3 linked regions of the Homo sapiens genome follow. The protein of the gene in region 1 interacts with the protein of each later gene in a pairwise test. Each region holds a gene or a part of one and is shown in the gene's direction. Other genes may lie near its edges.

Region 1 (2,650 bases):
CTGGGCTCAAGTGATCCTCCTGCCTCAGCCTCTCAAAGTGCTGGGATTACAGGCATAAGCCACTGTACCTGACCGATTTTTTTTTTTTTTTTTTTAAGACAGGGTCTCGCTCTGTTGCCCAGGCTGGAGTGCAGTGGTGCAATTTTGGCTCACTGCAACCTCCACCTCCTGAGCTCAAGATCCTCCTGCCTCAGCCTCCTGAGTAGCTGGGACTAAAGGCACGTGCCACCACTCCCAGCTAATATTTGTATTGTGTAGAGGCAGGGTTTTATCACGTTGCCCGGGCAGGTCTCAAACTCCTGGGCTCAAGCGATCCGCCCTCCCAAAGTGCTGGGATTACAGGCATGAGCCACCACACCCAGCCTTTGTAATGTTTTTTGAGCCACTTAGTCTTCATGCTTATTGATCATTTAGATATCCCAAGCATATCATTGTTTCAGCTCGTGGGAGGCAGTTTGAAGTGGCTGATAACAGACTTATTTATTTTAGTTTAGTTTTTTATATTTACTGAGCATTTCCCATTTAAGGGCTTTATGTATGCCGTCTTTTAAAATGTTTACAACAACCCGTGATTAGGTTTTATTATTACCCAACTCTCCAGGTGAGGAAACTCAGGCTTACGGAGGTTAAGTGCCTCTCATGAGCCCAGGTCACAGCTACTCAGGGGTGGACACAGGTCACAAACCCAGGTGGTCTGACTCCAACTCTTGACTGTCATGTTTCAGATCAGGAGCCACTAGCCCTGCCCGAGGGGTCCGGGTAGGCTTCTTGGAGGATCGGCCATAGGGGTCATACTGGGGTGGCTGGAGGGGGTTGTGTCCTTCTGGGTGCTCATGGCGGTTGTCCTGTTGCAGGTGCCCTGCTGCAGGAGGAGAGGCTGGACGCGGTGACCCTGCTTTACGCCACCTCGCTGCCCAGCTTCTGCCTGCTGGCGGGTGCAGCCCTGGTGCTGGAGGCTGGCGTTGCCCCACCGCCCACTGCTGGCGACTCTCGCCTCTGGGCCTGCATCCTGCTCAGCTGCCTCCTGTCTGTTCTCTATAACCTGGCCAGCTTCTCCCTGCTGGCCCTCACCTCTGCCCTCACCGTCCACGTCCTGGGCAACCTCACCGTGGTGGGCAACCTCATCCTGTCCCGGCTGTTGTTTGGCAGCCGCCTCAGTGCCCTCAGCTACGTGGGCATCGCACTCACTCTTTCAGGAATGTTCCTTTACCACAACTGCGAGTTCGTGGCCTCCTGGGCTGCCCGTCGGGGGCTGTGGCGGAGGGACCAGCCCAGCAAGGGTCTTTGAGACCTGGGGGATCTCAGGAGCCACCTGGGATGGCCCTGGCCTGAATCCAGCCTCCGCTGTGGCCATAGAAGGAATGGAGAACAGGGCTGGGCATGGTGGCTCACGCCTATAATCCCAGCACTTCCAGAGTCCGAGGTGGGTGGATCACCTGAGGCCAGGAGTTCGAGACCAGCCTGGCTAACATGGCAAAACCTCATCTCTACTAAAAATAGAAAAATTAGCTGGGCATGGTGGCGCGTGCCTATAGTCCCAGCTACATGGGAGGCTAAGGTGGGAGGATCACTTGAGCCCTGGAGATCGAGGCTGCAGTAAGCCAAGATCGCATGCTACTGCACTCCAGCCTGGGAGACAGAGCGAGACGCTGTCTCAATTAAAAAAAAAAAAAAGTGGAGAACTGGCAGTGACCTCTACTGGGGGCCATGGCAGGGAGGGGAGCCTTCTGGAAGGGCTGCCTTGGAGATTGGAATGGGGACTCCCAGGGAGACCTGCGTTCCATCCCTGCCTGCCTCACCCCTGCCACAGACTCTGCACACCACTGGATGGTGGGTCCAAGCCTGGCACAGTCCCTGTGCTTGTCAGAGTCATTATTATGATTAATATCAATTACGATGCCAAAAATTGCTGGGCAAACTTTGAAGACCTCAACTTGTTACAATGACGATGATGATGATTCTTGGCGGTTACACAATCCTTCCTCCTGGGGGGGAGGCAGCTAGGAGGCCCAGCAGGGGGGCTTCTATGCTGCTGGGCTCCCCTAGGGAGTTGGGGTAGTCTGTGCCAACTCCAGGCAGCTGCTGTGGCCTCACCCCTGGGCCCCCCAATTTTGGGTCATCCATCCTCAAATACACTATTTTTGCTTGTATGCCTGTGTCATTTGTTGGTTGTACAGAGGGGATATAGGGAGAGTGGTAGGCTTCCCACACAGAAACTAGGACATCCTCCCTTACCCATCGCAGTCTGTCTGGCCCCCCACCCCGAGCCCAGTGCCATTCCCTCAAATCCCTCCACTGGCTGGGCTACCATTGCCCATCTTCTGGACAGTGGCAGTGGCCTCCCCCTTGCTCTGCCTGGCCCCTCTACTCCATCTTACACACAGACCCCTTCACCCAGAGGGATCTCACTAAAACGTGCACATTCTGATGTTCCTCACTGCTCTTGGGACAAAGTCAGAATTTCCTACCCCAGACCCCAACTCACTCAGGACGTGGCACCTGCAGCCTCACCCAGCTTGTCTCCCTTCCCCTGGGCTCTGCCTTCCAGCCTCACCGACTTCTTTCAGTTCCCCGTGATACCAGGCCTGCTCACTGAAACCTTTGTACATGCTGTTCCCTCCGTCCAGTCCCCGCTTCCTACAACAACCTC
Region 2 (7,037 bases), on another chromosome or scaffold:
CCTCATTAAGTCCTCACCACAGCCTAGGAGGGGGCTGCTATCACTAACCACATTTGCAAGGTGAGAAACTGAAGCTCACACAAGCTTAAGACTTATCCAAGGGGCCGGGCATGGTGGCTCATACCTGTAAGCTTGGCACTTTGGGAGGCCCAGGCAGGAGGATAGCTTGAGCTCAGCACTTCAAGACCAGTCTAGGAAACATAGTGAGACCCTATCTCTACAAAAAAAAAAAAAAAAAAATTAAAAATTAGCCAGGCATGGTGGCACATGCCTGTGGTCCCAGCTACTCAGGGGGCTGAGGTGGAAGGATTGTTTAAGCCTGGGAGATTGAGGCTGCAGTGAGCTATTATTGCCTGGGTAACTGAGCAAGATACTGTTTCAAAAAAAAAAAAAAGAAGGAGAGAGACTTGTCCACAGTCCCATAACTGGTGGTAATGGCAAAGCTGAGACTCAAGTCCAGGTCAATCTGGATCCAGAACCAAGCCATATTGTGGTGGGAATCAAAATAGGAGAACGGGAGTGGAAATGCCTCTAGGTATGGAGATGCAGGGCAGGCTCGGGGACTCATGATCAGGGTTGTCTTTACTGTGTCGCTCGCCAGGCTGCGTTTCAGATGCCATCACATGGACAACCCGAGAACCTGCGCTGGGGAGGAAATTGGAGGGATATCATATGAATATGGCCGGCTTCTCTCCTCCCACCCCAAACTGAGCAGTCCAATCCAGTCTTGTGAGGTGTCTACTCTGTGCCAAGACCCTGAGGCTCTAGCCCTTGGCCCAGGTGACTTCCTGTTTCCATGATGATCTCTGACAGACCTTCCCTGACTGTGCTTAGGCATTATCTTATGTAATCCTCACCTCGGTCCTGTAAAGGCAATTCTCTTTCTCTCCCCAAGCTATAAATGAGGACACTGAAGTCTCGGGAGAGGGCAGAGTGGGAACCCACGCACAGCCAAGGCTCTCGGTCCCCAGCTATGCTGCAGGGACCACCAGAAGAGTAAGATCAGGTCTCAGCCTTCTTCCAGCAGAACCCAGAACAGTGTAAAACTGTTCTCTTTTCCCTCCATCTCCTGGGGAGAGAAAGGATGTACTCAGTCCTCACGCCATGCAGCAAAGACCTCAAATGCCAAGGAGAGAAAATGACAGACAAGGCCAGATTAATGGGGGAGGAACTGCATAGTGGAGTTAGGGCCAAGCAGGGAGGGAAGGATTCCCCAGCAGGCGAGGGAGTGAAGGCTGCTGGGGCCCCATCCAGTCGGGGAGGATGTGGGTGAGCCCATGAGCAGAGGGGACTTCGTGGTTCGGTGTCCGGTGAGCTTCACGGCTTCTCCTCCCCTCCCCCACCTGCTTCCACTGCCCAGAGAGGAGGTCTCTGATCTCCTGCTCATACAGTGAGTCAAAGGCAGCTTTTCCCACTCCCTCACCCCCACCACCCCACCTGTCTCTCAGAGGCTCCCTTGCCTCCCTAGAGGTTGAGGCAACCCCTAAGTTCCTCTTTGAGAGCCACAGCTGCGTTCACAGTGTTGCCTCAGCCCAAATTCATTGAGTTCGTCCTCTGTGTCTCTCCCTGGGTCTGTTTGGGTCCTGGAAAATCTGATGGAGCTGGAAGCTGGGGAATAGAGCCCACTGAGAGCAAGGAAGGAGCCAGAGGGTGCTTCACTGACCTTCTGTAGCCCTCCCTCCCTTCCAATGGGCCCATTTGACAGATGAAGCCACTAAGGCTGAGACACAACAGGCAGAGACAGGAGTCAAACCCAAGTCTGTCTTCCCACTACTTTCTACCAGCTTTTCCCACTAGGGAGGGAGATGTTCCAGAAGGTTCACATCATTAGAAGGTCTTGATGCCTGTTTCCATTTTTTTAAAAATTAGTGAATAATTATTGTAATAGTTAAAAGATTTTTTCTCAATGTGAGATCTTCCTAGGATAAGTGGAAGAATCAAATCTGGCAGGTATAGCCAGGCATCGCTTGAGCCCAGGAATTCAAGGCTGCAGTGAGCCGAGATTGTGCTACTGCACTCTAGCCTGGGTGACAGAGCAAGATCCCTATCTCAAAAATAAAATAAATATTTAAAAAGCGATAGTTGGCCAGGCACGGTGGCTCATGCCTGTAATCCCAGCACTTTGGGAGGCCCAGGTGGGCAGATCATGAGGTCAGGATATCGAGACCATGCTGGCCAACATGGTGAAACCCCGTCTCTACTAAAAATACAAAAATTAGCCGGGCATAGTGGCATGTGCCTGTAATCCCAGCTACTCAGGAGGCTGAGGCAGGAGAATTGCTTGAACCAGAGAGCCGGAGGTTGCAGTGAGCCAAGATCACGCCACTGCAGCCTGGTAACAGAGGGAGACTCCATCTCAAAAAAAAAAAAAAAAAAAAAAAGCAGTAGTTAGTGGTGATAGAACAAACTAGCTCATGACTCACAACCAGGCAATTAATCATTCAGCTACAGCTTTGGCTGATATATGGCTTTACATCGTTTTTGCTCTTAATCTGATATCATTTAATTTATACCCTTACTGAGCCAATGATTAAAGACAGCATAAGAAACTGATATCAAAAATACAAGGAAGCTGGGTACGGTAGCTCACGCCTGTAATCTCAGAACTTTGGGAGGCTGAGGTGGGTGGATCACTTGAGGCCAGGAGTTTGAGACCAGCCTGGCCAACATGGTGAAACCTCATCTCTACTTAAAAAATACAAAAATTAGCCAGGTGTGGTGGCACACGCCTGTAATCCCAGCTACTTGGGAGTCTGAGGCTGGAGAACTGCTTGAACCCGGGCGGCAGAGGTTGCAGTGAGCCGAGATCACGCCACTGCACTTCAGCCCGGGCAACAAAGCAAGACTCCACCTCAAAAAAAAGAAAAGAAAATACAAGGAAATGATGGTGTTAACTCCTCTGCAGATTTGCTTCAAGATTCTTCTTTTTTCTCTTGTTTTTTTTTTTTTTTTTTGAGACAAGGTCTCCCTCTGTCACCAGGCTGGAGCATAGTGGCGCGATCTCGGCTCACTGCAACCTCCACGTCCCAACCTCCACCTCCCAGGTTCAAGCGATTATCCTGCCTCAGCCTCCCATGTAGCTGGGATTACAGGTGCATGCCACACGCCCGGCTAATTTTTTTGTATTTTTAGTAGAGATAGGGTTTCACCATGTTGGCCAGGCTGGTCCCGAATTCCTGACCTCAGGTGATCCGCCCACCTTGCTCTCCTAAAGTGCTGGGATTACAGGAGTGTGCCACCATGCCCGGCCTGCTTCAAGATTCATAAATTACATTTATCTGATCAACTTTCTTATATGGCATATTAGAGAAATCCTACTACTTCACAACATTTCAAAGGTTGGTAAGAAGAGAGAAAGATGTATTCTGTCTTTTCCTGTACTGGGTATAAAAGAGATCTACACCTGCAAGGCATATACAGAGAGGCATGCAAATAGGGGCCTGAGACATATTTTTTCTTTTTTTTTTTTTTGACACAGAGTCTCACTTTGTCACCCAGGCTGGAGTGCAGTGGTGCAATCATGGCTCACTGCAGCCTTGACCTCCTAGATTCAAGTCATCCTCTCATCTGAGTCTGTCAAGTAGCTGAGACTACAGGCACATGCCACCACTCCCAGCTAAATGAAACCTATTTTATCTTATCATATAGCAAACATAAAATTACTTTTAAGAAGTATGAATTGGCCGGGTGCGGTGGCTCACGCCTGTAATCCCAGCACTTTGGGAAGTGCTGAAGCTCAAGGTGGATCACTTGAGCTCAGGAGTTCAAGACCAACGTGGGCAACGTGGCAAAACTCCATCTCTAAAAAAAAAAAAAGAAAGAAAAAAAAGAAAGATAGGAAAACAAAAAAAAAAAGTTAGAGAAAAATTTTAAACAATACACTTATTGTAAATAGTACATTTTATTTAAAATCACTTCCTTTTTCATGGGCCATAGAAAATTATGAAATGGCTCGAGTAGTTTCCACTGGGGTTTGTAAAATTAAGTTTTCTATGTCCCATACATACTGTTTAATCCTCACAACAGTCCTGAGTGGAGGTATTTTCATTATTCCCATTTTACAGACAAGGACAGTGGGGCTCAAGGAGACGACGTAATTTGCACGAGAGAACACAGCTTTAATAAGGGGCAGGAGGTGGGTACAGTGGTGTGGGCCTGGAGTCCCACTGCTAGAGAGTCTGAGGGGGGAAGACAGCTTAAGCCTAGTTCTCCAAAAAACATCAGAGTGGGAGCAGAATCAGAATCACAACTATGACTCAGGCTGCCTCTGTCTACCTATTTCCTCCTTATTCTCAGTTGGTTCCGAGGGTAAGTTCAGGACCAACTGAGAATCTGTGTTCAGAACCAACTGAGAATCTCTTTTACACAGAACAGGAACAGGAACTAGAAATCCAGGCCACCTTGCAAGTTTGGCTCCCGAGGCCTGAGATTGGCTTGATAGAGTGTCCCGTGATCCCGCTAGATCCCAAATCCCAGGCCAGAGATTGCAACATGTGTTCTTTGTTATGGTCCCAGGGACCAAAAGCCAACAGATGCACAAATGCACCTTAATTAATTCTATTAGAGAGAGGTAGAAGGAACTTACAGGAGGATCAGCTCCCCAGATGTCTGGCCTATCCCTGGCTGTTCCTCGTCTCTCCGTGGCCTGAGTCCTCATGCCAGGTTTAATTCATCCATCAGCCTCTGCCCAGCTTGTCCCTTTGTCCCCTCCAGCCCCTTTGCCACCACTCACAGATCTTATCAGCCCCATGAGTCAAGCCTCTCTGCTGATGCTGGTTTCCCCAACTACAGAACAGGAGTGATACTAGTCCCCCATCATGGATTTGTTGTGTAGAATATATAAATTAATATATAAATATATATAATATATAAAGTGCAAAGATGGCTGGGCGCGGTGGCTCATGCCTGTAATCCCAGAACTTTGGGAGGCCAAGGCAGGTGGATCACCTGAGGTCAGGAGTTTGAGACAAGCCTGGCCAACATGGTGAAACCCCATCTCTACTAAAAATACAAAAGCTAGCTGGCGTGGTGTCGGGTACCTGTAATCCCAGCTACTTGGGAAGCTGAGGCAAGAGAATCGATTGAACCCGGGAGGCGGAGGTTGCAGTGAGCCGAGATGCACTACACTCCAGCCTGGGCAACAGGGCCAGACTCATCTCAAAAAAAAAAAAAGAAAGAAAAGAAAAGAAAAGTTAAGTGCAGAGAATAGTGCCTGACACACGGTATACAGTAGGTGCAATTTCAGTATTAGTTGCTACTATTGTCATAATCACCAGAGTGTTTCAAGAGCTGAGCCTCCATGGCTCTCCACATCGCTTCACAAACTCCCCTGTTCTGGGAACCAGCCTGAATTGCAACCTCAACCCCCGACTGATGCAACCCTATAAGCAAACCAGAATCATGGCTGGGGTAGGGGCTCTACCCTTTGGGATCTGGCCAAACCAGGAAGAGGTAGAGTGGCCTGGAGGCAAACCACAGGTGATTCAGAATGTTCACCACGTGGTTAACCCTGTCTTACTCCTGCTTTAGAGAGAAGCCACCATGAAAAGTCCTCATCATCAGGGGACAGACCTCTCTGTTCCCTGGTTATAATGCCTTACTTTGTATGAAAGTTTCCTTTCCTACAGAGAGCACTTCATGGACAGAATGGGTGACTGGCCACTTCCAGGTGTGATTTTAACAATGCTCCTCCCACCCCCAGACAAATGCATACTTCCCGATGGCTGACAGATTTCACAGTAACAGGCTACCCTCAGGGTGAAAGAGATCCACACATGCTTATCAGTCATTTATGCTGTAATATCACAGAGCATCAAATAATTTTCTGTAGTAGACTTTCTTTGAAAGAGGGAGATAGGCCTTTTAGTTCTTGTTATAAAAATGAAGATTAGCTAGGTGCAGTGGCTCACACTTGTAATCCCAGCACTTGGAAGCAGCACCAGGCCGATCACCTGAGGTCAGGAGTTCGAGACCAGCCTGGCCAACATGGTGAAGCCTTGTCTCTAATAAAAATACAAAAAAATTGGCTGGGCATGGTGGCAGGCGCCTGTAATCCCAAGCTACTCGGGAGGCTGAGCCGGAAGAATCACTTGAACCCGGGAAGCAGAGGTTGTAGTGAGCCGAGATCGCACCACTGCACTCCAGCCTGGGTGACAGAGCGAGACTCCAAAAAAAAAAAAAAAAACAATGAAACGAACAAAAAAACCAGAGTTCTGAGTGACATCACCTGGATCACAAAGGAGCTCCCTAGTGGGGCAAAGCTAAGATTCCTGTCTTCAGGCAGTGTGAACTCTGGAATCTGGTAAAGCAGAAAATCGGGAGCCCAAATGCAATTTTTTAACATTTCAAAGGGCCCCCCAGAAAGATTAGAGAGAAGTCCCCGGGAGAAAGCCGCAGGAGCCAGCTGAGCAACTAGGAGGCAGGCTCCTGTGACAGTTGCAGACCTGGGCACAGGTTTGGGTTCACATCGGGCTCTGCCCTTTTGTGCAACCTCAGACAAGTCACTGCATCTTTGCGCCTCCGTCTCCTTGTCTGCAAAACAGAGATGATGATAATAGGACCACCCTTCCTGACTTACTGTGAGGATTAATTGCATTTTACACAACTAGCTATTGTTAAAGTGAAGCTCCCCACAATCCCATTTTCACCCTTGCATTTATGGCCTGGCAGGTTAGGTTCTGCAAGGCTGTTTCACAGATACTATGAGGAGCACTTTTGATATGTTAACCTAGGCATGCCCTTCTTACTGACGCACGTTAAAAAGAAATGCTTTTTTTTTTTTTTTTGACAAAGCCTGGGGTCTCACTCTGTCACCCAGGCTGGAGTGCAGTGGCACATCACGGCTAGCTGTAGCTTCAACCACCTGGGCTCAAGTGGTCCTCCCACCTCAGCCTCCCAAGTGCCTGGGACCACAGGCATGAACCACTACCCCTGGCTAATTTTTTTTTATTTGTAGAGGCGGGGTCTTCCTATGTTGCCCAGGCTTGTCTTGAACTCCTGGGCCCAACCGCTCCTCCCACCTCAGCCTCCCAAATTGC
Region 3 (7,440 bases), on another chromosome or scaffold:
GAGGCAATCCTCCTCTGAGCACTTAGTCTGATGCACTGTATCTTATGAAGTCTCTTCTCTCTGACTACTGGGAAACTGAGCTATTCCCAGTCTTGTGTGAGCTCTACAAATCACTCCTCCTACTCCTTTTGAGTGGTTCTATCCCAACCTTGCATACTTTACATGCATGTGCTGATCAGTATTCAGCCTTGAGGGAAATCTTTTACAGAGTTCCGGAGTACTCTTTCTGTGCAGTGCCCCTCTGGCACCTTGCTCTGCAAATTCTGCCCACCCTCACCTCCTTGAATTCTGAACTTTGTCTCCTAAATTTAGGCGGACTTCCAGGCTCAGCCTGGATTCTTTCTTCCTGCACAGAGGACTGGAAATTCTCTCTAGGTAGTAAACGGAGGCAATTGTAGGGCTCACCTCATTTGTTTCTCTTTTCTTGAAGATCACTGTGCTGTACTGTCTATTTTCCAATGTCTAACAACTATTATTTTATGTATGTTGTCCACTTTTTTAGTTGTTTAAGATAAAAGGGTAAATCCTGTCTCTTATTCTTTCATGGCCAGAAGCAGAGTCCAGCTTTCAATTTTTTTAATATTTGGGTCAGATTAGTTTTGGGTTTTTAAAAATAACACTCAGATAGAAAGTAGATGGCATCAAAGGTCATAGACTGACAGGATCCTTAGAGACTACCTAACATCCAACCCCTAGCCCCACCACACACACACACATTCATTTGGTGGATTACAGAAGTGAGATCAGAGAGAGGAAGGGGATCTTCCCAAAGTTACATGCAAGTTAGCCACAGAATTAGGGCTAGAATTCAAGTCTTCTGCTCTCTAGTTTTAATCCATCAAGTTATTTTCTGCTGATTTTCTCTTCCAAATTAGTTTATTTGGATAGACATAGCTTTGAAATCCAGAACTTCTGTACTGCCCAAACCCACAGAATGTGCAATATTAGCTCACACCCAGGTGGTACTTGATTTTGTTTCAGTTTTGCAAACACAGCTTCTAGGAGTTGGCCTGAAGTGAATTCCAGAGTAACACATAACACTGAAAAATGTAAAACACCCCCATGGGTAGGCACTCCAGAACAAAACCATATATTTTTCCCCATCGACTTATTATGAACTCGCTAAGCAAAAAGGAGTGTGACTTAGAACTTAGATTGACTGATTTAGTCTTTTTACCACCTATGGGAACCATGTGTCTGTCCTACAAAAAGAAACCATTACCACTGCAAATGCACTTGTCTTTTCACAATTCTAGCAACTCCTAGTCCCCTTTCACCTAGATTCAAAAATTTTATCTGAGCTGGGTCTGGGAGCCCTTCTGTCTTGTCTCTGCACTCTTCCTTGATGTAGCCTAGGAAATGCCCCTGCTTTGGAGTTAGAGTAGGCTTTAACTCTCAGCTCCAAAACTTATTTGCTGTGTGACCTTGGATAAGTTACTTAACCCCTCTGTAAAGACAGGGATGATACTGTCTTACATTGATTCTAAAGCACATTTTTTTTCACATTCTAGCATCTTTGAAATCAAGATGTATCTTGTTAGCCATGGTATGATGGTTAAATGTTCAGCATTTTTCCATTTCCTAGTGGTATGTACTGTGTCATGCTTTCAGAAAATACGGTATTGTTTCCTAACTTGCAGAGCTTCCTCAAGGATTTAATACAAGACAGCAAGCATAAAGTAGGCACTCAAGGACTCTTGCACCGTTTATTACTAGAATGAATGACTAGAACTAATACTTGGCTGAGTCTTGGGTTTCCCAACTTCCCTCATCTAGCTATTGGTACAGCAATTGGGGCAATTAGTCTGACAAGGTGAACAAGCCTGAGGCCGGCACACTACTGACCAGTGTTGCAACGTGTGATTGTCAATGGGACCTTGGGCCCTTTCTTGTTGGTAGCTTCTTGCCCTCTAGTCCTGGTCCATTAATATCATCAGCTTGATCGTGCCTCTGCTGCTACTGAATTATGAAGGTAGGGAAAAGGACTAGGTGACTTCTTAAGCCATCATCCCAAAGTCTCCCTGTTTCATCCCAAAGACTCTCCCCAGAATGTAATGAGGCTTGTCAGTTGAAGGGCTCCTTCAAGGCTATCAGAATCAGAGCCTGCAGGGCTGGAAGCCAAATCCACATTCCCCAAAGCTCCACCACATACTTCCAGTTGGGGAACTGATATTTGGATGTCTTTGAAATCCAAGAATACCTACTCTGCTCACATCTGGAGGGAAAGAGAAGACACCGGAGGATTAACCACCCTCAAACATCTCCCTATACAGAAAAATAGCTGGTATTTATTTCCTAGCACTTCTCTGGCTTTTTTCCTATCTCCGGCTGGCAGGCTTGTCTCAGTTGCAGAGGCCTCATCCCACCCAACCCCTTCCACTCCCTATTATCCCCCTTCGTGCCCAAAAGTGCAGCTGCAGACTCCATGAGCCCATCCCTCTGAGGCACCAATCTTTAACATGTGTCTAGAGGGTCCCCTGCTGGAACCTAGCAGTCTCGGGCATGGTCACAACCACAATAAAAATAGGAAAGGTCAAGAAAGACTGGCCTTTGTCTCTGGCCACTTCTAGCAGCTTCACTGCCTCCCAAGTGATTGTAAAATCATTGAGTCTGAACAAACTACCGCTTGACAGTGCATGCCACCCAGGATTCTGTACCATGGCCAGCACGAAGCTAGGAATTAATAATAACTGTGAGTGATTATCACGGAAACTGTCTCTAGGAAAAATGACCAGGTTTTTACCATTCAACCTTGGGGAGATAAAATCAGGCATAGCAGAAAAAGGACAAATGATCTAAGAGCAAATGCAGGACTCCAGATCCAAAGAGCATTCTTGAGGCCCGATTATACACCTGTCTCATCTCCCTGTCTCAGAGGCAGGTGACGAGAAGGGGAGGAGGTATCTCCATCCAGCCCATCAACCAACTCCAAACCCTGTGCTCATTCTAGACCCTCCCCAACACCTCCTTGCCCTTATTCCCTGTCAATTTGCCTCTCTGTAGGTCTCTGCTTGCCCCGCTCTGTTGGACCTGTCAAGACCCTCTTTGTCTCCTGCCACAGCCTCCCTTCAGCTTTCTCCATCCAACACCAGCCCTGATTTTAGAATATCGCCCTACCTAAAACCCACCAATGAACAAGAATGGCAAATTATTTACCCTTGTGAAGGCTGGGTAATAGGAACATGGAGGATTATTTTATTATTCTCATTACGTTTGTGTATGCTTGAAGTCTTTCATAATAAAACGACTCTCCGACGACCTCCAGGGATCTCAGGGTAAAGTCCGAAGTCTGCAGACTGGCATTCAAGACCCCTCAGGATTTGTCTCTACCCAGTTTAACCAGCTAACCTCCTGGCACTCACCATGCTGCAGCCTGTTTTCCCAGCCTTTGGAACTCAAGTCTCTCTTGCAGCCCTAGTTTTACCCCATGCATCTTCTTTTTACAGAACACATTTCCCCTTGTGCCCTGCCTAGAAAACACCTCCTAATCCCTTGGAAATCTAATGCAAATGATCCCTGGTCTGGGTCACCTTCCCTACCTTCTGGGGGCAGGGAAGAGGGGGCCTCCTCAGTCCTGATATACAACAAATACCCAGTATGTGTTTAGGAGAGACCAGAATGTCTTGGCTAATAGAACGTGTGCAATATTTACTTGAACTTAGGCAAGTAGGGTAATCTTTCTTGGCTTCTGCTTCTGTCTCTATAAAATGAAGATAATAGCGGTACTTATCTCACAAGGCTGGGGTAAAGATTCAGCGGTATTCTCTGTGTAAACAGTTTAACACAGTACCTGGCAGAGAGAGGGGGAGAAAGAGGGAGAGAGGGAGAGATGCTGACTGACTTACAGACAGACATACTTCAATCAAAGAATATAGTGGGTAATTATGTGGCTTGTCTTAAATGAAATGCTTCCAAATCCCACAGGGAAAGCACTGCCGCTTAGCTCTTCCTGGGAGCTAGAGAAATTCGTGGAAAATCGTTGACATTAAAGTCACGATTCCTTTCTCGGGCTCAGGGGCTATTCATACTTTGGAGGGTTTTCAGAAGTCGAGGGGAGTCCCGGGCCCTCCTATTTGGAAGAATCGGAAGGATAGTGCAGGGTCTGTGCCTGGGAGCTGGCCCGAAATCAGGGGGCTAGGAAGGCACGGGGTTTGCACGAAAATCAGCCCCGGTGACAATCCCCAGTCTGTGAGCTCTCGGTGGACTCGGGGCCCCAGGGGTGGGAACCCGGAGTGAGAAAATCTGAGTGGGGTCTGGTGCACGGCCCCCCACCTGCCAGCCCCGCTCCCTGGGCTGCGGCGGCCTCGTGCGTCACGGGCGCAGGCGGGGGCCGAGGGGAGGGCGGCACCGCAAGGTGAGGGCACCGCGCTGCCTTAAGACGCCGCGCGCCCCCGCTGCCTCTCAGAGCTTGCAGCGCGGCGCGCTGGCCGGACGTGCGGGCACAGACGCTGTGCCCCGCTCCTGCCGCGCCCGCAGCGCCCGCTGCCCCGTGCCAGCTCGCAGCCGCCCGAGCCCCGAGAGGCGGCCGGGACGAGCGCGAGGAGCCCCGAAGGACCTGCACGCGGCGCCCGCGACGCCACGTCTGCAGCAGCAACAGGTAAGCAGCCCGGCCCTACTCCGGGCTCCGTGGCCCCCAGCACCCGGCAGGGCCCCGAGCCTGGGAGCCCACGACGCCCCCTCTGAAGCGTCCCGACGGCTGCTGAGCTACCAGGCGCGGTGGCCCGCGGTGCGGCCCCTTCTCGCCTTTCCCTAGCCATCCTCCCGCCCTCGCGTTTTCTCTCTCACTTTTTCTCGTGCGTTCTTTTCCCCCTTCCTCTCCATTCTCTCGTTTTTTCCTCATCCTTTCCCTCTTCCTCTGCTTGTTCTCTTTTCTTATTATTTTTTGCTTTTTCTGTCTGCGTCTCTCCCAGTCTGTCTTGCTCTCTCATTCTCTCTCACTCTCACGCTCCCATTTCTTCTTTTTTCTTTCTTTCTCCCTCTCTGTTGCTCACATTCTCTCTGTCTCTCTGTATGTATCTCATTCTTTCGCTGTCTCTCATTTCCTTTTTGTCTCTCTGCCTCTCAGTCTCTCTCGCCCTGCCTTTCTGACTCTCTCCACCACCCTGCACCCCTGCCTCTTTTGCCTTTCTCCCCAGCTCCTTTCCCACTCCCCTCGGCTGTCACCGACACCAAGCAGATCCGGAGAAAGCAAAGAGGATGCCAAATTGGGAATGGGGATGGGGCTGTGGAGGGTGAGGGTAGGGGAGCTCAATAGGCATCCTCTCTGCATTTTCCAGTCTCCATTGCACTGCTGATAAACTAAGGGTTTTTTAACCAAAGCCCGCGGTGGCCGGGGCGGCAGGTGGTTTCCACGGCAAAATAAAGTCCACAGGGAGACAGAGATCCAAAGAGACAGAGATCCAGCCAGAGAAAAACCAAGGTGAGGGGCCATGGGAAAAAGATGTAGAGAAATAGAGATGCGCACACACTCAAAGATACAAAGCAAGTGTTTAGCCAGAGTCCTGGGGTGACAGGAAAGTGAAGGACAGAGAAACCAACGAGAGAGTGCACACACTAAAGAGATAGCTTGAGAGACAGGTGAGACAAGCAGTAGAGTGTTAGAGATCAATGGAGAGAGAGGCAGAGTAATGCAGAGAGAACTTAGGCAGGGAGAGACAGAAACCACACGGAGAGACACAGAGACAAGAGGGTCCGAGAAAGACAGAGCAAGCGCACACGTGCCAGTGAGAGACAGAAGGAGACACCCAGAGAACCCGAGGGAGACGCAGAAACAAGAGAGTTGGAGAGACACGGAGACGGGCAGAGACACAGCGAACGACATTGAACAGGTGCGCTAGGGACCCACAAAGATGAACTGCTGGGGAAATAGACTGAGAGAGAAATGGAGAGACAAGAGAGCACTAGGGAAAGACGGAGACACACATGAACTAGCGAGCGACACAGTGACAGGCAGAGACACAGAGAGACAGAATGGATCAGAAAGAGACTGAGGGAGAGACGGGCAAGACTGTGAGAAAGATAGGGAGCGAGAGCGCAAGCCCTGCAGAGAAAGTGCGCTAGCGAAAGAGACACACACAGAGAGACTGAGTGACAAACAGAGTGGAAGAGATAAATGAGAGTAACAGGAAAGAGACAGCGTGCACGTGCTATCGAGAGACGGAGAAACAGAGACAGACATAAGTGAGAGACAAGGATGAGAAAGAATCAGGAAACGGTGAGACACATACAGACACACAACCCGAGAGATAAAGAAAAAAAGTGCGCTAGCGAGAGACACTGGAGAAGAGACAGAAACTGACGGTCGTAAACAGACAGAAACAGAGAGCGCACGCGCATGCGCTAGCGCTAGCGACCAAAACTCCCCGGAGCCAGAGACAGTGTGAGAGACAAGCAGAGAAAGCGCACGCACGCACGCGCCAGCAGGAGAAACAGATGAGAGGAAATCAGAGCCCTGGAGAGAGACAGGCAGACAGATCTGGAGAGTCCGGAAAGGAGCCATAGAAGCTGCCCGCACTGGGGATGGAGCCGTGCGGAAACCCGGGGTAGGGGGTCCTGCAGCGTCCTTGCTGGGCGCGGAGGCTTCTCCCCTTGACGGGTGACTAACTCTGCCTGCGTGTTTCTTTTGTCACCAGCATAGGCACTGAGTGCGGTCTGTGCACCCCTTTGCCACCCACCGGTGCCGGCACTGAGCCTGCAACCTGTCTCACGCCCTCTGGCTGTTGCCATGACGTCCACCTGCACCAACAGCACGCGCGAGAGTAACAGCAGCCACACGTGCATGCCCCTCTCCAAAATGCCCATCAGCCTGGCCCACGGCATCATCCGCTCAACCGTGCTGGTTATCTTCCTCGCCGCCTCTTTCGTCGGCAACATAGTGCTGGCGCTAGTGTTGCAGCGCAAGCCGCAGCTGCTGCAGGTGACCAACCGTTTTATCTTTAACCTCCTCGTCACCGACCTGCTGCAGATTTCGCTCGTGGCCCCCTGGGTGGTGGCCACCTCTGTGCCTCTCTTCTGGCCCCTCAACAGCCACTTCTGCACGGCCCTGGTTAGCCTCACCCACCTGTTCGCCTTCGCCAGCGTCAACACCATTGTCGTGGTGTCAGTGGATCGCTACTTGTCCATCATCCACCCTCTCTCCTACCCGTCCAAGATGACCCAGCGCCGCGGTTACCTGCTCCTCTATGGCACCTGGATTGTGGCCATCCTGCAGAGCACTCCTCCACTCTACGGCTGGGGCCAGGCTGCCTTTGATGAGCGCAATGCTCTCTGCTCCATGATCTGGGGGGCCAGCCCCAGCTACACTATTCTCAGCGTGGTGTCCTTCATCGTCATTCCACTGATTGTCATGATTGCCTGCTACTCCGTGGTGTTCTGTGCAGCCCGGAGGCAGCATGCTCTGCTGTACAATGTCAAGAGACACAGCTTGGAAGTGCGAGTCAA

Evidence for each region. The genes of interacting proteins can lie anywhere in the genome.
Region 2: the proteins of SLC35E4 (region 1) and CNR2 interact in binary tests that used the Homo sapiens proteins (3 or more experiments, as listed by UniProt).
Region 3: the proteins of SLC35E4 (region 1) and GPR101 interact in binary tests that used the Homo sapiens proteins (3 or more experiments, as listed by UniProt).

What each region holds. Positions count from the first base shown.
Region 1 is NC_000022.11:30,645,744-30,648,393, forward strand, and holds the end of SLC35E4 (solute carrier family 35 member E4), read left to right. Parts: intron 1-854; coding exon 855-1,288; 3' UTR 1,289-2,150; downstream 2,151-2,650. UniProt on the Homo sapiens protein: Putative transporter.
Region 2 is NC_000001.11:23,903,326-23,910,362, reverse strand, and holds part of CNR2 (cannabinoid receptor 2), read left to right. Parts: intron 1-7,037. UniProt on the Homo sapiens protein: Heterotrimeric G protein-coupled receptor for endocannabinoid 2-arachidonoylglycerol mediating inhibition of adenylate cyclase. May function in inflammatory response, nociceptive transmission and bone homeostasis.
Region 3 is NC_000023.11:137,030,959-137,038,398, reverse strand, and holds the start of GPR101 (probable G-protein coupled receptor 101), read left to right. Parts: upstream 1-4,403; 5' UTR 4,404-4,597; intron 4,598-6,632; 5' UTR 6,633-6,724; coding exon 6,725-7,440. UniProt on the Homo sapiens protein: Orphan receptor.